Linked DNA regions of Homo sapiens. The protein of the gene in region 1 purifies or fractionates together with the protein of each later gene. This does not show direct contact. Each region holds a gene or a part of one and is shown on either strand. Other genes may lie near its edges.

Evidence for each region.
Region 2: the proteins of MYEOV (region 1) and PRTFDC1 purify together in Homo sapiens (affinity purification with mass spectrometry; 2 studies listed by BioGRID and IntAct, with this or other methods). This does not show direct contact.

The regions. Positions count from the first base shown.
Region 1 is NC_000011.10:69,288,396-69,299,080, forward strand, and holds MYEOV (myeloma-overexpressed gene protein), read left to right. Parts: upstream 1-5,759; 5' UTR 5,760-6,181; exon of another isoform or gene 6,182-6,837; 5' UTR 6,838-6,959; coding exon 6,960-7,100; exon of another isoform or gene 7,101-7,196; coding exon 7,197-7,997; 3' UTR 7,998-8,892; downstream 8,893-10,685.
Region 2 is NC_000010.11:24,948,121-24,959,524, reverse strand, and holds the start of PRTFDC1 (phosphoribosyltransferase domain-containing protein 1), read left to right. Parts: upstream 1-6,918; 5' UTR 6,919-6,949; coding exon 6,950-6,997; intron 6,998-7,076; exon of another isoform or gene 7,077-7,161; intron 7,162-11,404. UniProt on the Homo sapiens protein: Has low, barely detectable phosphoribosyltransferase activity (in vitro). Binds GMP, IMP and alpha-D-5-phosphoribosyl 1-pyrophosphate (PRPP). Is not expected to contribute to purine metabolism or GMP salvage.

The DNA.
Region 1 (10,685 bases):
CTAAACCCAGACCTGTGAACCACACCCTCTAGCTTTATGGTGCCGCTCCCAGCCTCCAGCCTCTCCCTTGGGCCCCATGTAGCTGCCGGCTCACTGTCTATAGTGCACTTCAGTTAAGCCATCGTCTGAGTAAGTCTTGGAAGGGACCAAAGTTGGGACACGAATCTTGTCCGGAAGCAAGGTCCAGGGGCTTCTGACCCAGGGAGGTGGGCATGACTCATGCTGAGCAGCCGAAGCTCCCTGACTTGCCGTGTCTGCTCCGGCCTCTGCATCCACCTGTTGCCTCTGCCTGGGCTGCTTCCTCTTGCCTGCGCAGCCTGGAAAGCTTCTGCTAGCTCTGCAGCACTGACAGCAAAGCCCCCCGCCCTCCCTGGCCCAGCTCCTCCGAGCTCCGGCATCGTCTCGGACAGCCCCATGCTTTGCACTGAGAAAGCCCCATGCTTTGCATTGAGATGTTTACTGTGTTGTAAACCACCTGTATGCAAAGAATCTCTCTCCTTTGCTCCATTCCTGGGGCCCATCACAGAACGACTGAGTTTCACCTTTGTGCCCATCCCCTGCCAGCCATTGTCTCTGAGTCTCTCTCCCAGAATGCATGGAAACAGGGATTTGGTTCCTTTTTGTTTCTGACAGTGCTGGCACAGGGCCAGGTGTCCAGTTCACCCTCAGTCCCGACTCACAGAAGCAAGACCCTCTTGGTTTCTAAAATGCACCTTTTACAATTGTTGAAGGAATGCCTTCTTCAACCCCTCTGCAAGGCTCTGGAGGACCTTGGTAGGTGGCTCTACCAGTGTGAATGGACAGGGTCCCTCTCTGCCCCAGGAGCAGCAGGGGCCTCCAGCCAGCCTTCTGTGTTGCTCCTTGCGGGAGAAATTCCTACTTGGGGTGCCAGCCAGCAAGGCAGAGAGGCAGGTACCTATTTCAGTGCTATAGGGCTTGGCCTGGACACCCTCTGTCATGTGTGTGATAATCATAACACAATGTCGAGATCAGCATCTGATCACCACCCAGGGCTTCTTAAACACGTACTCTGTGCCAGGCACTGAGCTACGCACTTTTTAATGAATCACTTAGTTCACTCTCTCACTCACAACTTGCTGGCATCCATCTTGCTTTACTGTTGGGGAACGGGAGGCCCAGAGAGGTGGTGCAAGGCAGTGATTTGAACCAAGGCCTCCCTCTTGCTCTCCACAGCTCATGCTCTCACTGTGGCACCTGCTAATTCTGCAGCACCCAAGCAGGTCTGGGTGGAGAGGCAACCGGCTCCCCTGCCCCCATCCCAGGAGGAACCCAAGCCTCAGGAACCTCCTGAGGAAAGGCCCCACTGGCCATGACCTTCAAAGATCCCCCGGAGACCACCTGCAGGCATACCCGTATTAGTTATCTATCGGCATAACAAATCGCCACCAACTCAATAGCTTACCACAACCCCAGTTGCAAGTTCAAAGTGCTGCAGGTCAGACATCCAGGCACTGCTTTGTGGGTCTTCTGCTCGTGGTCTCACGTGGTGAAAATCAGGGTGTCAGGCAGACTGGGCTCCTTCTGGGGGATCTGGGGAGGAGTCTGCATCCACGCTTATCCGGGTTGTTGGCCGAATGCAGTTGCTTGCAGGTGCAGCTGTAGGATTGACGTCCCTGTTTCCTGCTGACTGTTGGCTGGGGCCACTCTCAGCTCCCTTGGCTGCCCACATTCCTTGCCATGTGGTCCCCTTCATTTTCCAAATCAGCAGTGGTTCTCATCGTCCAATTCCCGACTTCCACTTTGAGGACCAGATGGAGAAAACACCCTACTTGTAAAAGGCTCATGTGATGAGGTCAGGCCCATTAGGTTAGTGTCCCTTTCTCAAAATGAACAAGTCAACAGTGCCATCAAACACAATCCTATCATAGAGTGTTCATCATATTCACAGGGGCAGGGACTATGTAGGGCATGTATACCAGAGGTGTGGGTCTGGGGACCATCATAGAATTCTGCCTCCCACAATTTTAAAAATTAATTCAGCATCAGTTCTTACTTTTCCCAAGAAGATCGCACCATATTGGGCTGGGGTGGGGCATGGAGAGGGCCACTGGCTTCACATAGCCTTGGTTCAGAATCCTGGCTCTGATCTCCAACGGCTTATGGCCTTGAAGAGGCAGCATGACTGTTCTGGGCCTCAGTTTACTCATCTGTAAAATGGAGTGAGGGCCACTGGCAGGGCAGCTGGAAGGTTAAATGGGATCATGCAGGTAGAAATTTTGGTAGAACCTGACCCTTGGGGCCTGGGCAATAGATGATGCAGCTGTGCATGGTTTTTTAGAACAACCCAGGCTTCTGTTTTGTTTGAAGTAGGGTGGGACCAATGAAAAGCATGTTTTTAGGCTCAAACACATCTGAGTCCACATCAGGAATCTTTCAGAGTCCAACTGTGGCCAGCGAGGCCCTGAGTACTGGACAGGAGACATGCCTTGTGCTGACCAGTGCCCACATGCTGGTGGCTGCAACCTGGGCTGGCTGCTCACCAGTTGCTCACAGGCAGAAGGGTCAGGGCCAAGCCTGATCCCTCAGAGCAGGAGAGTTGGGCATGGAGTTGTGGCAGGTGGAACATCATATGCCCACGCCATTGGAGCTGTGGTCCCTCCTTGGCAGTGCTCTGAGGGAAACTGGCATCCCTGTGCCCCTCCCTTTAGAGTCTTTGGCTTCCTCATTGTGTCTTACTGCGAAAGAGCAGTCAGACTGATATGGATGATGGGAGGAGCTGCCCTTTGGCTCAGAGGAGGAGTGTCAGAGAAGGGGTCACAAAGACAGCTCTGTAGGCTGAGCCAAAAGCAGTATAGGGTAATGTTAGGAGCAGGTCTTGGTGCAACTGCCTGGGTGCCCCTAGGTTCCACTGCTAACTTGCTATGTGACTGAGCCACTGTACACTTTAGTTTCCTCCTCTGTAAAATGGGGATAACAGTAGTCCTAGCCATAAAGTTGTCATGAGGATTAAATGAAATAGTGTGGGAAAACTACTGACATGTGGTGCATGTTCAGTACAAGTTATCCTCACCATTATCATCATCACCACCATCATCATCATCATCACCAGCATCATCATCATTACCGTCATCACCATTACCATCATCACCATCATCATCATTACCATCATCACCATCATCACCATCACCATCACCATCATTATCACCACCATCATCACCATCACCATCATCATCACCACCATCATCACCATCATCACCAACATTATCATCAGACCACCATCATCACCATCATTACCACCACCATCATCATCATTATCATCTTCACCATCATGATCACCATCATCATAACCACCATCATCACCATCATCACCACCACCATCATCACCATTATCATCCTCACCATGTTCACCATCATCATCATCACTATCACCACCACCACCATCATCACCATTATCATCCTCACCATCATCACCACCATCATCACCACTTTCATCACCATCACCGTCATCACCATCATTATCACCACCATCATCACCATCACCGTCATCACCATCATCACCACCATCATCATCACCATTATCATCCTTACCATCATCACCATCACCATCACCACCATCATCACCATTATCATCACCATCATCAACGCCATCATTATCACCATCATCACTATCATCACCATCACCATCACCATCACCAACTCATCATGATTTAACAGGTGGGCTGGCAATCTGAATGTTGAAGACAGAGGGAGAAAATCAACCTGGGGCAGTCAGATTTCTACAGTCCTCCCCAGCAGGACCCAGGTGGGCTACTGGGAGTCCCAGAAGCAGATATCAGCCCAAAAGATGAGCTTTGATAATTAGAGTGAGGCTATGGTGAGACTGAGTGACACTGCGGGGTGCCAAAATAATCTAGGGTTGTTGGAATGCTGACAGCAGACAAAAGTAAGATAAGGTATCTCCTGACACCACCTCCTTCCATCTGCTCTCAGACGGGGCTCTTTGGAGAGGATCTGCCAGGAAGAACTGAGGTCTTATGCCACCTCCACCTCTACGTAACCTCAAACAGGCGTCATCTTGTCTCCTGGCCTCAGTTTCCTCATCTGTAAAACGGGGACACATCAGGATCTGCCCTCAGCAAGTTGCTGAGTGCCTGCCCTGAGCAGCCGGTAGGTGGCGCTGATGGGCTGGTGGTTGGGTTGGGGGAGGCTCGCATAGGGTCTCTGGAGGTCCCAGTAGGGCACTGGGGAGACCTCCCCTGATTCCCTGGAGGCAGAGCAGAGCTCTTGTCTTTGCAGGAGCTGCAGATTCTGCCTTGGGTATCTTAGAAGCTTTGTACAGGCATCTCCAGCTCAGTGGGAACCAAATGCCATCCTATCTCCCCACCTCACTGGTGTCACCATCTTCCTGGGAGCTGTCTGGATAACCCTCTCCCTGGCCCTCACCTTTAATTTGTCCCTGAGTCCCATCAGGGTCACCCTCCATCCCACTGCCATCTTCCTGGGAGCTGTCTGGATAACCCTCTCCCTGGCCCTCACCTTTAATTTGTCCCTGAGTCCTATCAATCAGGGTCACCCTCCATCCCACCACCATCTCCCACCTGAGTGAGAATGGGAACCTCCTCTCCCACTCCCTCCAATTCCCCTCCACTACAGCTGGGGGAGGCTTCTAAAATGCCAAATATAGCCCAGTTTCTGCAACTTGCAGGGTCCCCAGCCCTCGGGAGAAAGTCCAAACCCCTGACAAAGCCTGTGAAGCCCCCTGAGGCCCTGTGGGTCTGGGGCTAGCTCTGGGCTGCAGCCCTGTCTCTGGTCATAGTCCAGCATCCACCACGGTCCAGGTGCACTGAGCTGCCGGCCCTCTCTCCCCTCCGCTGGCTCCTTCCTCCTGACTGCCCGTCTTTCCCTGGCCTCTCTATGCTTCCCGCTGGCATTGACGACAGTGTCCTGGAGAGCTGGGCAGGGAGGGCTGCCTTGGGTTCCTACTGTGTGCTCCACCTAGTGCTGGTCTTGGCCCTTAGCAAGTGCTCAGTACACCCGTGTGGAATTGGGCGGTGAGGGTAAAGGGAGGAGGAGGGAAGGGCCAAGAGCTCCCTGTGCTCAATGAAGAGAGGGACTTGAGCAAGTACTCATTTTTAGTACTTCCCAAGATGTGTACAAGAGGCCTGGGGCCAGCAGAACTCCTTGCCCCTGCCCATCCCCCTCCAGTCTATGGGGTCCACCCCCAGCTGCCCAGCTGTGAGGCCTCCATGGCTCAGCTCCTCATCTATTAAGTGAGGACAGCAGTCGTCCCCCTCACAGCGAGGCCACGTGGGTTACATAACTTTTTCTTAGGGTGCCTGGCCTGCAAGAAACCCCTAAGAATGTTCTATATTCCTAGGCCCACTGTTATTCTTAATATTACCCAGGAAAGGGTGGTGAAGCGAGTAAATAAATGAATAGGTGAATGAATAAATGAATGAATGAATGGCACCCTAGCCCCACTGTCTTCTGGGTGGCTTCAGGATCCTTGAGGAGGTTGGCCGTGTAGGTTCCCCTCAGGTAGGACCTAGGTGAGCTGGGGAGTCTTAACTCACCCAGGGCAGGCCTTAAGGTTGGGCACACCCATGTGTGGGCTCTGCCCTGGCCTTAACCGAGAGAGGGAAATGTTGACGGGGAAGAAAGCCCTGCCCACCAGGCAGCCCCACCCACCTGGGCTAGCCCCACTCACAAGCAGCCCCACCCACCTGGGTTAGTCCCACCCACCAGGCAGCTCCGCCTACCTTGGCTATCCCCCTCTGAGTTCTTGCCTTGATTCTCCTGTTACTGTCCCGCGAACCCACATCCCTACAAAGCAGGAAAGTATGCTTGGGAGAGGCCAAGTGAGTGGGGAATCAGCCCAAAGCCAGGCGTCCAGGGTCTCCCTCACCTGAAGCTGACTTTTTCCCCACCTTGGACAGAGGGCGGGAGATGCCATCCCCACTGAACCCAGTGCTTTCACCAGCCATATTAGCTCCCACTCACCCCCCGTCGTGGAAGCCTCGGCCGTCACACCTGCAGGGCCGGGGCGTGCATGGCCTCAGGGATGGCCTGTTCAGCTGCTGGGTGACTCGGGTCCAGGTGCCTCACCACCTGCTGAGCTCTGTGTGATTTCTGGACACTTCTGCTCGTTGCCTTTGGGCTCAGTGAAGAGTCTGGAGTTTATCTGGAGTGAGGTGGCCGGTTCTTGGTGGGATCTGAGCAGGTAAGAAGCAGGGTCTTTCTTATGTTTTAAGGAAAGCCCTGTGGCTGCTGGGTGGGGGACCAGCTGGAGGGGCAGGAGGGCAGCAGGTGACTCATTACAAGGCTGGGGCCATCATCCTGTGAGAGCTGGGCATGACCAGTGCAGGTCAGTGGGGTTGAGGGTACAGACCAGTGGGACCCACAGACGGCTCGGGAGTGACCAAGCCTCTGCTGAGCTGCCCAGGTCCCCTCTGGTGGACACCTCCTACCCGGAGCCCCCCAAGGTGGTGCCAAAGCTAGACCACCATACAGCCAGAGGCCTCCAGGCCCTACCCACGACAGCCCAGCTGGCTTCTGCCCAGCCACCGTCACACACAGAGGGCAGCCGTCCCCATGGTCCCTAGAGGCGGTTGAGGACCACTGTGCCTGGAGTCATCTGTGGCTATAAACCAGGAGGAGAAGGCTGCCCACCCCCTGCCCCAGAGATGGGGAGGCTGGGGCCACCCGGTGGATTTGGGCAGGTCCCAGCTTCCAGGATCATGAGGTGAAAACGTGAAGGGACCCTAGAGGCCATGGGGACCCAGGCACAGAGCGGCGGCCTCTCATCCTCCCCATGGTCAAGGAGGTCAGTGCCTTCCCGGGGTGGATTACGGATGGTAGTATCTTCCTTCTCCTCAGAGTCCATTCAGGAGCAGGAAAGTTCATCTCAGACCCTAAATCCAGCCACGTCATGCCACGCTTAACACCTCTAACAACTTCCCCTGGCACTTAGGACAGCGTCTGGCTCCTTCCCTCGGCTCATGGCCCTCAGAATCTGCGTCACATACACCCCAGCTCTCCCGATAGGTCTCTGCACTCGCTGTTGCCTCTGCCTGGAACAGTCTCCCTCCTGGTGTCATTGTCTCCGTGGTGTGTCCTTCCTGACCTTCCACCTCCACCAGGTGCCGACACTTCCCTGACCCCAGTAACCTCTTCTCTTGGGTGGGTGAATGCCACCTGCTGATGTCTGATTTATTCATCGGTTTTCTTGTCTGTAGTCTGTCCCCCTTGGGGACAGGGACTCGTTGCTCATGTTCACCCGGCAGGCTGGACACTTCGTGGAGGGCTCCAAAGCCGGCAGATCCCGGGGCCGCCTCTGTCTCTCCCAGGCCCTGCGTGTTGCGGTGAGAGGAGCATTTGTGTCTCTGTGGTTTGCTGCTGGAGCTGGTGACCGGGAGAGAAACAAGGGAGACAAGGGTGCCCAGACAGGTGCGGGGCTCAGCCAGGAGGCAGAAGACGTGGACGTGTCCCGGGCCAGGAGGGTCACAGATGCACCACAAGGCACTCTGTGTGGCACTGGGAACAGGAATTCTGGGAGTCAGTCTGCAAGGGTGGTGGGCGTTGCTCACCTGGGAGAAGCCTTTAGAGTGGGCGTTGAGCAGGCCATTAGCTCGTGCCCTGAGGAGGTGCATGGGCGGCATGGGCTCTCCATGGAAATTATGTGGGCGCGAATGGATGTGGCTCTGCGCTCACCTGGGCGAGGACTTCTGGCCGGTGCCGGGGCACTCTGCATGACCCTGGCAGAATCGAGCTGCCCTGACTATGAAAGGGGAAGAAGAGCATGCCTGACCCTCCACCGGCACCCCACCCCTCACTGCTCCACCTGGGGCCTGCCTCTGCGGGTGGCTGGGTCCTGGCTGACTGTTGTGACTGTTGAGGCCCTGGGGGGGTGGCGCATGGGAGTTAGGAGGACTGGCCAGGTGGGGCCCACTATGCACCCACCCCCAGTGTCAGGTGCTTCTCCTCTCCTCCTCCACCACCTCCTCCTCCTCCTCCTCATCATCATCCTCACTTGTTGAGGACGTCCTGTGTGCCAAGTGGTTTATATGCCCAGCCTCATTTAATCCTCAGAATGACTCCATGAGGTAGCTACTAAAACCCCCCACTTAACAGATGAGGAAACTGAGGCCTAGAGAAGCTCAACAAGTTGCCTAAGTTCCAAGTTTCCTCTCCCAACTCTCCTACCCTCTCCTCTTCCTTCTCCTTTCTCCCATTCTTCCCTGCCTCTTCCCTAACTAGACAATTTTTTATTGAGTGTCTCCCAGGTGCAGGCATGAGCCAGGTGCTGGGAAAATCATGATAACCCAGCTCCTTCTGGTCATTTTCTCAGCTGGTTAGAGGCTGGGAGGACACGCAAGTTCAGCTCCAGCCGACTGGGGCATTGGTGGTAGCCCCTGGAGACATTGTGCAATGGGGCTACGAGGCTGCATCTGGCTCCAGGGAAGCGTGTTGCAATCCATGAGTGATGTCTGCCATGCGTACAGGCATGGAGAGTGAGGCGCCTGTACTGTCTTTCTGTAGACCCTAGACTGGTGGGGCCTCTGAAATGCATCCAGACACTGTGCTGGGTGTGTTGCATGGCCCTCCCAACCAATTCAGTATTTTTCTCCCCATTTTCCAGGGAGAAATCTAAGGCGTCAGAATGTAAGGTTCTTATTGGAACCCAGGCTCCAGGGTCCCTGGTTTTCTGTGACATCATGCTGCAGGACCCTGTTTCTCTCTTTGCTTTGGCTGCTGGGGAGCTCAGAAGGGAGCTTTAGGCTTGCTCTCAGTCACCACATTAGCTCAGGGGTTTGGGCATTTTTGTCGCCGTCTCCTTTGGGCTCTGTCTCCTCCCTGCTGTGCTTCCTGAGGAGCAGGCCGGATGTAAGTTATCAACTATAAATAAAACCAAGACTTCCGTTCTGGCTCTCACTCTAGTTTCCTGGTGCATTTTTTTTTTTTAAAGTTCTTAATCAAGGGAGGGGATACTCCTAACTGAAGATGACATCAGCATCAGCTGGCCCCGGGGGGCAGGCCCCCAGCCCCCAGGCCCGTGTGGGCCCTGAATGCCCCCATTATGAGGGGTAACCTCATTACACAAGACACGCTGCACGGCGGAATTTCAAATGGGGTTTTGTGGTTTCTGCCCTTTGCAGCCGAGCACACACAGGCAGCTGCGGCCGCCCGGCTTCCTCTCCCGCCGCAGCCCTGGCGCCTGGCCAGCTGGTGACCACCCCTTCTACCATGAGTCAGTTTCATTCTTAACTCTCTGACTCAGGTCCCTTTAAAGGGACAGCAGAATCCATTCATTCCAAGCAAGGGAGGAGAGGTGAAGAACCTGCCTGGGAGAGGAGTCAGGGGTCAAGAGGAAGCTTAGGGGTCCCAGGCAGGCGGCTGAGTGAGCAGCCCTGCCTCACTCCCCTACCCCAGACACCAAGGATGGAGGGGCTTTCCTGCCTGTTCCAAGGGAGACGGACCTGTGACTTCCCCAAAGCAGACCATCTGCAAGGCGGGAAACCCCGGTGTTCAGCAAGCTTCCTTTCTGTCTGGGCACAAGCCCTGCCCAAGCTCTGGGCTCAGAAGGTAATGGGGGCTTTGCAAGCCACCCCCAATGCCCCACGTGCACCACTTCCTTCTCATCCTTGGCCCCCTCATTCCTTGTACTTCCGTCGCAACAACCTCTGGAGTTCCTAGAACATCCTGAGCTGCTTCCCCCGGCTGCCTCCCTGCCACCTGGCATGCACGTCACTCCGCTCTTTGTGGTGGTCCCATCTCCTCCTTCCGAGCCCAGCTGCATGCCACCTCCTCCCACGTACATACTGCCAGTCCGTCATAGCAACCTATTTATCTCCATAGTAACACAAGGAACAACCCCAAACTCTATTCAACTTGCTCCCCATGTTAACGGCCCCCAGTGTGGACTGTCAGCTCCATGAAGGCAGGGCCCTACTTATCTCGTTCACAGCACAAGGCCGGGCACACAGTAGGTGCTCACTCAACATTCCTGGGATCAATGGGAAATGACTGTCGGGGAACCCTCTGCAGCCGTCCTTGTCGAGGGCCCCAGATGGGGTGTGGGTGGCCCCTCCCCATCCAGATGGTGTTGGAGGGGCTGGGGGCCAGGCATGGCGAGCAGGCCGAGGCTGCAGGTGGACATCCCTGGGACTGGAGCTGCTGGGGGCCAGGCTGCAGTTCCAGCCCAGGTCAGGTCTCATGTGAGGCCTCCGTGAAACAAGAATTTCTCTCTCCGTTTCCTTCTCCTGTCTGACTCACACTTTCGTTTTGAAGTTCCCCCTTTCTGCCAGTGCTTTGCCTGAGGTTACGGAGTGGTCAAGCGAGGCCAGCAGGGCGTGGAGACCAGGAGGAAGCTGGGCTGCAGTTTCATTCACAAAAACACGACCCGCCCGCTTCCTGTGTCCTGCCTGGGCTGCCCGGCCCGCAGCCCTACAGCCAGTTCACAGGGTGTTTGCAAGTTTGCAGGGGCCAGTGAGGGTGCTCCTGGGGTTTAAGAGGCTTGAGTTTGTCCACCCCACGGCCTCTGTCAGGACCCCCCCTTCCCGCCACTATGCTTCTGTCTCCCACGGTGCCTCCCAGCTCACCCCCACAGGGGCCTGGCGCAGAGCCTCAAACTCAGGATTCTATAGGAGCTGAGGGTTGGGTCTGAGCACCTTGGCGCTTCCCCTGGCCCCACTGACCCATCCTTGTTTCAGCACAGAGCTGGGAGG
Region 2 (11,404 bases), on another chromosome or scaffold:
GCCATTTTCTTCAAATATAAAGTGGATCAAACTCACAATTAGGGAAGTGTTGCTCTATGTAGATCAGTGTCCAATTTCTTTTACTTTCTCCATCTCTCCCACTCTCAAGCCACATCTCTCAACCTCTTTCCCAAGCTCCTCTCACCTTAACTCTAAGATGCAACCCATAACCTGGCAATCACTGGATCATGTCTTGGGATATTGCCAGTGGCTGTTATACATCAGCTCTGATCTGAAGAGAATCCATGTACAGCTAAGAGAATAAACAGCTCCATTCCCATTCTAGCTGATCGTCTCCCCAGGACACCAGGCAAAGTTGCTGCTGACTAAGGAGGCCCCCCTTTTTTTGTTTTTGTTTTTGAAGTGGACATCTTTCCTTTAGAAACTCAGCACTGGCTGAGGCACCAATTAATTTTGCATAAGCTGCTACAGGACCCTCAGATGCTAATCAGTTTGTTCATAACCACAGAGTATTGTTTTAGGGTCATGTACGTAACTTCTGCCTCCAGCCCTGTGGATTTATTTACTGCTTAGTCCCTAGTTCCTGCAGCTGTGTCCTTTCAATGACTGCTTTATGGTGGCCAAGAGAGTTGAGGTCGACTGCCAGGACTCAGAGATCTGGAGGAACACATGGACACATTATTCTTTTGCTCTGAAGCTATCCAATTCCTGTTCCGGTCAGAAGGGGAGATAGTGGGAGGATATCTCTGAAACTGCCCAGCGCTTACTGCTGATATTCCTCAGGTCTGACATTATTGCAAGAGAACAAACTTAGATCTACCCTCTGTGTGTTCTTCAGTGGAAGGTGAATTACTAACGAAAGTGTAATAATACAAAACACAATTGAGTGTAGCCTTGGCTTTATTTGTAAGACCTACTCTGGAGATATTATTTTCTTTACTCCAAGACTACACATTGGATCCAGTCTGCTTCAAACAAGAGACCGGGAAAGACGGGTTACTATGCTAATTGAATACTAATGAGGCCTTTGCTTAAGTTGGGTTTTGTTGCAATTATTTGCCACTACATTTCTTTTGTATTTATGTAGAGGGAAAAATAAACTACTTCAAAGTTAGCAAGAGTCTTACTTAGCCTGAGCACTTGCAGAAAAAATGTCTTGCTACTCTTTCTTTTGTACTTGTAACATTTGTAAAGAGTTTTGTTCGGCACTATGGAAAAGCAAAATATCATCATCATTATTACTGGCCTTTGTCCACAGTGGATTTCATCCAGATTCTAACCAGTGACTCTGTGACTAACAATCTGAGTCACTAAGTTTCAGATGTTTATGGATTTCAACACAATTCCCAGACTGAAAGGTTTTTTTTTTTAATTTACTTTCATGTTTCAAGACTCAGAAAGAATTAACTGCCTTTCTGTATTTCCAGTCTAGTGCAGAAAGAATTAAATGCCTTTCTGTATTTCCAATCTAGTGTCACTGAGTGACGGGCTAGGAACAATTCAGTGGATAGACTGAACTGTTCCTTCAATTACAGATTTGTATTGACAAAAGTCAATTACCAAAATGTCAAAAAAAAATTAGTATATACTTCCAGGACAAAAGCCTCCAGGCTGGCAGAGAATTCAGTGAATTATAAATATTTGTGTTTTCACCATGGTAGTGGCACAGGATGATTACAGAATTTAAAATGCAGAGAATCACGGTGATGGGAAAACTGAATATCCACATGTGGAAGAATGAAACTAGACCCCTCTTTCTCACCATATACAAAAATCAACTCAAGGCCGGATGCAGTGGCTCATGCCTGTAATCCCAGAACTTTGGCAGGCCGAGGCAGGCAGATCACTTGAGGTCAGGAGTTTGAGACCAGCCTGGCCAATGTGGTGAAACCCCATCTCTACTAAAAGCACAAAAATTAGCCGGGCGTGGTGGTGGGCGCCTGTAATCCCAGCTACTTGGGAGGCTGAGGCAGGACAATCACCTGAATCTGAGATGCGGAGGTTGCAGTGAGCCGAGATAAAACCACTGCACTCCAGCCTGGGCAACAGAGCAAGACTCCGTCTCAAAACAAACAAACAAACAAACAAACAAACAAACATCAACTCAAAATAAAGACTGCCATGTAAAACCTGAGATGATGAAACTGCTAGAAAAAAAACATAGTGGAAACACTTCATGACATTGGTCCAGGCAAGGATTTTTTGGATAAGACCTCAACAAAAAGAATGAAATCCTGTCATTTGCAACAACATGGATGAACCTGGAGGACATTATGTTAAGCAAGAAAAGCCAGAAACAAAAGGCAAATACGACATGATCTCACTTATATGTGGAATTTTAAAAAGTTGATCACATAGAAGTAGAGACTAGAATACTGGTTAGCAGAGTCAGGTGAAAGGTGGGGAGGAGTGGCAGGAGTAGGAGAAGTTGGTTAGTAGGTACTAGGTTATAGTTAGATGAGAGGAATAAGTTCTGGTACACTAACGCAGTAGTCTCAACCTTTTTGGCACCAAAGACCTGTTTTGTGCAAGACAATTTTTCCACGGATTTTGAGGGGGGATGGTTTCAGGATGAAACTGTTCCATCTCAGATCATCCGGCATTAGTTAGGTTCACAGAAGGAGCATGCAACCTAGATCCCTCCCATGTGCGGTTCACCATAGGGTTTGTGCTCCTGTGAGAATCGAATGCGGCTGCTGATCTGACAGGGGCAGAGCTCAGGTGGGAATGCTCGCTGACACTCACCTCCTACAGTGCAGCTCAGTTCCTAACAGGCCACAGGCTGGTACCAGTTTGCAGCCCGGTAGTTGGGGACACCTGCTGTATGGCACAGCAGAATGATATATTTAACAATAATGTGTTGTATATTTCAAATCAGCTAGAAGAGACAATTTTGAATGTTCTCACCACAAAGAAAAGAAAAATGCTTGAGATGATGAGTATGCTAATTACCCTGAGTTGATCATTATGCAATGTATACATGTAGTGGAATATCACACTGTACCCCATAGATAATATGTATAACTATTATGTGTCAGTTAAAAATAAAACTAAAAAAAAAAGTAAGTAAACACAATATAAACACCAAAAAAAAAAAATAAATAAAATGCAGAGAAACTACTGCTAAAATGTAATAAAGAGAATGATAGAAAAATACAAGTATATTGACTGGTTATTAACTTTGCAAAGATGCACATCTTTATTCTTATAGCTCTTTCAAAGGTATATTAGAAAATGGACAGTCTGACCAGGGCCTACTTGAGGGTGGAGGGCGGGAGGAGGGTAAGGATCAAAAAACTATGTATCAGGTGCTATGGTTATTACCTGGGTGATGAAATAATCTGTACACCTAACCCCTGCGACATGCAATTTTCCCAAACAAACCTGCGTGTGTACCCCCAAACCTCAAATAAAAGTTGGAAAGGAAAAAAAAAGAAAAGGAAATGGACAGTCTGAGCTAAAATATCCCTTTTTATGAAAAATCTCATTATTTTAATAATTTTATCATTTTTCTGTATTCATTCTCATACCAGCTCTAGACTATCCCTGGACTATAACTATCCCTGATTGGTCACCTTACGTCAATCTTTTATTATTATTATTATTATTTGTTTGTAGGGACAGGGTCTTGCTCTGTCACCCAGGCTGGAGTGCAGTGGTGCAATTATGACTCAATGCAGCCTCAAACTTCTGGCCTCAAGCAATCTTTCCAGCTCAGCCTCCCCAGTAGCTAGGTCTACAGGTGCCACGCTACCACACCTGGCTAAGTTTTTAATTTTTTATAGTGATGTGGTCTTACAATGTTACCCAGGTTTGGTCTTGAATTCCTGGCCTCAAGTGAGCCTCCTGCTTTGGCCTCCCGAAGTGCTGGTATTACAGGTGTGAGCCATGGTGCCTAGCCCCATCAACCTTAAAAGACAATTCCTTGTCATTTTCACATGGAATAATTTTACAAACATTTGGTCATACATTTTTACAGCATGTCAGGTTAATAATATCTTACAGTTTTATAGCATTTTGCAAAGAATTCTCTTGCATGTTATCTCACATTCATCTCATCATCATATGCAGTAGAGAATAAATGGGTGGCTCCATTTTATGGATGAGAAAATTGATGTATATTACACTGATATAATTGGCTTAGACTCATTGGCTAAAGTAACATGGATTGTTACAGAAAAATAGAGGTCCTAGTCCAAAGCTATTCCACTAGACATGTGATATGGTTTGGCTCTGTGTCCCCACCCAAATCTCATGTTGAATTGTAATTCCCAGTGTTGGGGGAGGGATCTGGTGGGAGGTGATTGGCTCATGGGGGTGGATTTCTCCCATATTGTTCTCGTTATAGTGAGTGAGTTCTCACAAGATCTGATGGTTTAAAAGTATGTGGCACTACACCCTTGCTCTCTCTCTCTCCTGCTCTGCCATGGTAAGACGTGCTTGCTTCCCCTTTGCCTTCTGCCATGATTGTAAATTTCCTGAGGCCTCCCAGCCTTGCTTTCTGTACAGCCTGCAGAACTGTGAGTCAATTAAACCTCTTTTCTTCATAAATTATCCAGGTCTAAGGTAGTTCTTTATACCAATATGAGAACAGACTAATACAACATGTAACAGAAATTTGAGGTTTAAAAAGAATTTTTGCCTCTAAATCCTCATAATGCAAGATTAAGAATAAAGCCTTGGACAGATGAGCTGTTATTTCTGGATACCGGTCTTTGCAAATACTATTTGGGTTATCAAGTATTATTTTGTATTATGTTAATGCTCTCCAAAGTATCGAAGTGTAATCAGACCGCACAAAGTATTATCAAAATATACAAAGATAATAAAATGAATTAGATTTTTAAAAACTATTTACTCATCATTCTGTGCCCTTTATAGGATGACCTATATAAGTCTATGTAGGATGTTCTTGAGCACACATTCATAAGATTCCTGTTGTCTTTCAAGCAAGTTACATTTTTCACTGTGAACTTGTTGGATTTTACGTTTAAACTAATAGCCTTTCTAAGGGAAGAAGATTTATCTACCATTTCCCTTACATCTTCCGCAGTGTCTAGGCTGGAACCAAAGTTGATGCTTTTTGACTTCTGTATGGCAACTACTCCTGTGACATATTTTGAAGTTCCTGGTACCCCCCAATCTGGCCCTGCACCCACACTGAGCCTCATGGCTAAGTTTTGATATCCAAGCAGTAAGATGGTCTAGTGGAATCCCCTAAAGCATGGGTCATGAGCCACCCACATCACACCCATCTGGTGTCTCTCAGCAGGTACAGGATTCTAGGTGCTTCCACAGATCTTCCCCACCCAGTGAAGCTGCATTAACCAGCTCCCCAGGAGAGTCTTGTGAACTCTAAAGTTTGATCATCATCCTAATGATAGCACTTTTCTGCTCCTGGAAATTTTAATGATGTTGCTTGTGAATATGGTTCCTGGGCCTGGTCTTTGAAAATGAAAATAAAAGATGGTGCTTGACTTTGGGGAAAAGAAGTGAGATGCAGACTACAAAAATGGCTCAAAACAACGCCCTCTCACAATTACTAGGAGAAAATGTTTACCCGTGTGCTGAGAAACAACACCCCCCATTTCTGTAAGGCAGTTGCCAAGCAGATGCCTGATTTCAGGGATCTCTGGAGCTGCACCCTCCAAGGCGCTGGCGCTTAGAAACGACATGAAGAGCCAGCCCTGCTGAGCAGGACCAGGGCGCCAAGTCTGAATGACTAATATTTTTCCAACCTAGAACGTCATTAACCGATTGATAACTATTTCCCCTTTAAACTAGGCAAAATCAGCATTCCTCTCCCCTCTGTGTGCCAGAATTCGAAGATGAACAAAAGACGCCTGCATCAGGAAAACTGTGTTAAGTTCTCTTGGATTCAGGGCTTCGACCCGAATTGGGCTGAGTGAATGAAGACGCTGGTGAGATGTCAGGGACCTGGGGAATGAAGACACACCCAGAAAAAGCAGGAACCTACAGGAGTGGACAAAGAACCGGAGCATAGGCATGTGAGAGGGGTTGAAATGAACAACAGACTCATACAAGAAGGATTTCTAATCAGAAAAGAGCGATTGCTTTAGTAAAGCTGCAACCTGGAACAATTACAATCTGACCAGATGTTCTTGCAAAACTGGTAAAGCAGAGAATGTGTAAAAATCTCTCCCCCTCCTCCCCTGAATGCAGTTGACGAAAGGCCGAAAGGCTGGATCCTCAAAGCCCAGATCTGATCACTGCAGATCCGGGCCACCCTAAAAGCAATCGGGTGTAATCTTTCCAGCTCCAGGCCCTGGGATGAGGGAGGTGGGGGAAGGTGGAGAAAGGTGGAGGAAGATGGAGGGAGGTGAGGGGAGGTGGAGGGAGGTGAGGGGAGGTGGAGGGAGATGAGCGGAGGTGGAGAGAGGTGGGTGGCGGCTCCAAGGTTTGAAAACACATCCAGGACACTTCCCATCCTCCAAGAGCACGCTGGCTCACAGGCTCTTTCACGCTTCTGCTTGGGACAATCGCGTGCATGAAATCTGGCAGGGAGGAGTCAAGGAGATTGTTAGCCCGAGGGCTGGGACGGTGGATCTGGGAATCAGGGGCCTGGGGGACACGTTCTCTTCCTGCCGCGGGCTTCCTGCTCCAGAGTCCCCGCGGGGCTTGGCGGCGGGGCCGGGGGCTGCACGCGACCATCCGGCAGGGGGCGGCGGCGACAGCGGCGGCCGCAAGGGACGCGTCCGGGGCCCGCGCTCAGGGGGAGCGGTAGCGGCTTGGCAGCTGCTCCCCGCGCCCCCGCGGCCTAGCCAGGGGAGGGGGCGCAGCGCCGGGGCCATGGATCCGCGTCAGGCCGCTGCTTCCCGCCGGCGGGCCCGGGGCGGGGCGGACCCGTCCCCGTCCCCGTCCCCGTCCCCGTCCCCGTCCCCATCCCCACGTCCCATCCCCCACGCAGCCTTCGCCCTCCCTGCTCCTTCCCGCGCCGTCTTCCCTTCCCGCGTTCCCCGGGAGAAACATGGCCGGGAGCAGCGAGGAGGCGCCAGACTACGGGCGAGGCGTCGTGGTAAATGCAAACTCCCTATTTTGGGGCTCGGCCCGCTCCCCTCCCTCCCTGGCACCCTGCTTGTAGATTAAATGCTTGCCGTGCGTCGGGGGAGAGAGAGGGCCACCGCTTTGTTCTCCCTCCCGGCGGGGATCGCTTCCATCCTCGGACCCGGGCCTCCTCTCCCCGCCCCCAATCTGACGAAACTCTGAGTCCCGTCCCTTCACCCCGAGTTCCCAGCGTCCCCCCGTGTCCTCCGGCCGGTAGCTCGCTCCTGCAGCGTCCCGCCGGCGCCCAGCCGTCCCCATCCCCGCGAGCCACGGGGAGTCGCTTCTGCGAGCCCGGCAGGGCCCCAGAGACCCCCGCGTGCTGCTCTGGAGGCCTCCTTCTTCCTGGGTCTCCTCTTGACTCCTCCAGGGCGGGCTTCAAGTTTTGTTTTTAAAAAGCACACTGAGGGGTTTTGAAGGCAGCTAGGAAATAAAGTAGCTCAAGTGGACAGAGCTTGAGATTTGAAGCCTTTGGTACCCAGGTTGGGGGCTCTCTGGCAGTGGAGGCCTCTGCAGGAGCTCTAGGACACGCTGGCGGCTCCTGAGTGACCTATGGCTTGTCTGTAAAAGGGAGCAACAGCAAGCTGGGCTCTGGAGCCAATTGGGAGGATGCATGTAAAATATCTAGCAGTGTGTCCGGATGGGAGGGTGTGGGGTGCTGGTTTCCCAGAACTGAGCCTCATTAACCCTGAGAATCCTGACGGTGTCAGCCAGAGGGTACCCATCTCTCAGTGTGCTAGGATCCAACCCGTTCTTGACCTTGTGGCCACGTCCTCCCTGCTCCCTGAGAAGTGGTTTTCCTAGAAGGTGGTGGTTATAACTTGTGTCAGGTTCAGTGTGAAACTCAATGGTGGTGAGGATGGTGGGTGGGGCTAACTTGCCATCTCTTTCCAGGGATCAGCTTGTCATTCACAGATAATCTGTTTATGAATATGAATGGCCTGAACTAAAGTAAGTGGGCTGGGGAGGGAAACGTGTCACATTCAGACAGAAGGGTCAGGTTGAAATGTGGGGCTCAGTGCTTAATTTAACAGCAGGACCTTTCCTTCTGAAAGGATGAGGAGTTGATTTATTCATTCCACACGTTTATTGTCCTGCTGGGTTGTAGGAGGTGCTGTAGGCTCTGGGGTGCAAAAGACAAAGGCCTTGTCTTCATGAGCTTGCGTTCTAGAGAAGACATAGGCAAGCAGTGTGTAAACAAATAGAGAAAATTTCAAATAGAGATATGTGCAATAGGAGGAGGGTAACAGGATAGAGGGTAATTGGAGGAGAAGGGGGGAGTGATGCTTTTGCTCAGGTGGTCAGGGCAGCCTCTCTGCGGTGACCTTTGAGCCAAGATCTGAAGGGTACACAGGAGTAGCCATGTGGACTGCAGGCAGAGACCCGCATACCAAATGCAAAAGAATCATTGTATCCGATTTATGCTTTTACAAAAACCATTCCAGTTGCCCCAGGAGGAGGGGCAAGCCTAGCGGTGTGATGGATGGGAGGGGGACTAAAACGCAAAAAGGGCAATCATTAAGTTCATTCTGGACAAATTGAGTTTGTAGTGCCTGTAAGGCCCACAGGTTGGCCTGCACTGTAGGCAATTTGAAATTCACATTTGGAATTCTGGAGAGTGATTGGAGAGATTTGGAAGTCATCAGCAAAAAGAATAATATGTAATGTTCGGGAGTGCTCAGTGAATATGGAAAAAACAATTAAAGCAACTGTTAAGGATGGAAGCCTGGAAAGTCCCAAATATAAGAGGCTGCCTGTGGGGGAGAAGCTGGTTGAAGGAACCGAGAAAGAACTTTGAAGGGTGGGAGGGCAGGCAGCATGGTGGGTGCCTTGGGAATAGAGCATTGTTGAGCAGGAGGGGCGGGGTCAAGAGGTCATCAGAAGTGTCAGATGTTACAGGGACAGCAAGTCGGATACCAAGATGGAAAACAGCCACTGTATTTAACAATTACAAAGCCATTAGTAGGGAGAATCTTTTAAACAACCACTGCATTGGTAGAATGGTTAAAATATAGTACAAGTTGAGCATCCCTAATCCAAAAATCCAAAATCCGAAATGCTCCAAAATCTGAAACTTTCTGAGCACCAACATGATGCTGAAAGGAGATGCTTACTGGAGCATTTTGGATTTCGGATTTTCAGATTAGGGATGCTCAACCAGGAAGTATAATGCAAATATTCCAAAATCCAAAGGAAAAAAAATCTGAAATTGGAAACGCATCTGATCCCAAGCATTTTGGATAAGGGGTACTCAACTTGTACTACCGTAACATACTACATACTTTTAGAAAAGAATAAGGTGAATCTAGATGCACGGATAGAGTAGGTAAATTGTTGAAGTCTAAAAAACAAGTGAGAGAACACTGTAAATAGCCCAGTCTATTGGTGTCAACAGAGGTCCTCTTGGAAGCAAGGTAATTTTTTGAAAGATGCAAAGAGGTAGTGAGAGGGGTATCAAGAGAGTAGAGGGCCAGGTGAGGTGGCTCATACCTGTAATCCCACCACTTTGGGAGGCCGAGGTGGGTGGATCTCCTGAGGTCAGGAGTTCAATAGAATCCTGACCAACATCGTAAAACCTTGCTGCTACTAAAAATACAAAATTAGCTTGGCATGGTAGTGCATGCCTGTAATCACAGCTACTTGGGAGGCAGAAGCAGGAGAATTGCTTGAATCCGGAAGGTGGAGGTTGCAGCAATCCAAGATTGCACCATTGCACTCCAGGCAACAAGAGTGAAACTCCTTCTTAAAAAAAAAAAAAAAAATAAATAAATAAATAAATAAATAAACAAAAAAAATGAGTATAAACTGGACCAGCTGCCAAGGGGCTTGGTGCTTGCATGAGAGCCCACAAAGGTGGGAAATAATCCACATATAATGGAGATAGTCCCTACATTTACATCCTTTTCTCCAGTAGAACTTGGAATAATTAGATTAACCTCAAGTTGGATATAAGCAGGCAACTTCAGAGCGAATCGAAGCTGCTGGTAGAAGGCAGCTCATGGCATGTAAGGCAGGAGGGAAGGGAGAGCTGGAGAGGATGAGTTTACTGGGAGAATAGAAAGCTCTCAAGGATGGGATACAAAAAATCAAATTAGTACCAGTTTTAAAAAGGGGCAGGTGGCTGGGAGTGGTGGCTCACACCTGTAATCCCAGCACTTTGGGAGGCTGAGAGAGCAAATCACTTGAGCCCAGGAGTTCGAGACCAGCCTGGGCAGCCAACCCTCTCTCTACAAAAAATACAAAACTTAGCCAGGCATGGTGGTGCATGCCTGTAGTCCCAGCTACCGGGGAGGCTGAGGTGGGAGAAGCACCTGAGCCCAGGAAGTCAAGGCTGCAGTGAGCCATGATCGTGCCACTGCATTCCAGCCTGGGTGTCAGAGTGAGACCCCATCTGAAAAAAGGGGCAGAGGGCAGGTAATAATAGCAAGCATTTCTTGAGCACAAATCTGTAAGGGAGGTCTAGTGTGCTCCCCATTTTACAGAAGAGGAAACTGAGGCACTGAGAGATTAAGTAAATCACCCAGGTCGCATAAGTAGCAAATGGCAGAAGCGGGATTTGAACCAGCTTTCAATCACTATACTACATAGCAAGCTGTGATTCCAGGATGGAATTTCAGGGTTGGGGCCATCTGTAGGACTGGTCTGGCTATGTGAATGTATTGCTAAATGGGGAATAAAGATGTGATTTGAGTTAAGAATGTAGTTTGAGCTAAGGCTGGTGAAGGAGCTACAAGATGAAGTCGTTGGAAAGATCGTTGAGGTAGGCATTGGAGTAAATCAGCCAAGGAATTGTCCAGGAATGAGGTAGAGAAGAAAATTCCGAGTTGGTAGAAATCTGTTGATAAAGATGGCAAGGGATGTAGAGTCAGATGATATAAATATAAAACGAGAAGTAAAGTTTGTGCAAGAGAAGGGAATATTAAGAGATTTAAGATGGCTCTTGCCTATAAATTGGCTTTTGGTTGAACTGGGGAGGTAGGACATTTATACCATTAACAATAAATGGTAGCAAATGCTAATTGCCACATAAGAGAGGTAGATCCTAAGGTCAGAAATTTTGCTCAGAGTTGGCTTGTCACTTGATCTGGAGCTAATACAGTCACCAGATTCCTGGTTGATACCTCTTTGTTACTTCTCAGGGAGAGATAAAGATCTTCTCTATCCACCTGGCTTTTGGGGATCGGGTTATTAGACATGTTTTTGTTTGTTTGTTTTTGTCTGGTTTGGTTTTGCCAAATGATTATCAACTGAGCTATTATTAGTACTTACCTAAGTGAGTTTGGTAGGAATCAGGAGAAGAGAGAAATCAGAAATGATTGTTGTGTTTCTGTTATGGCTGGCTTCCTGTCACCCCCCATGAAAATACGGCAGTATCAGAGAT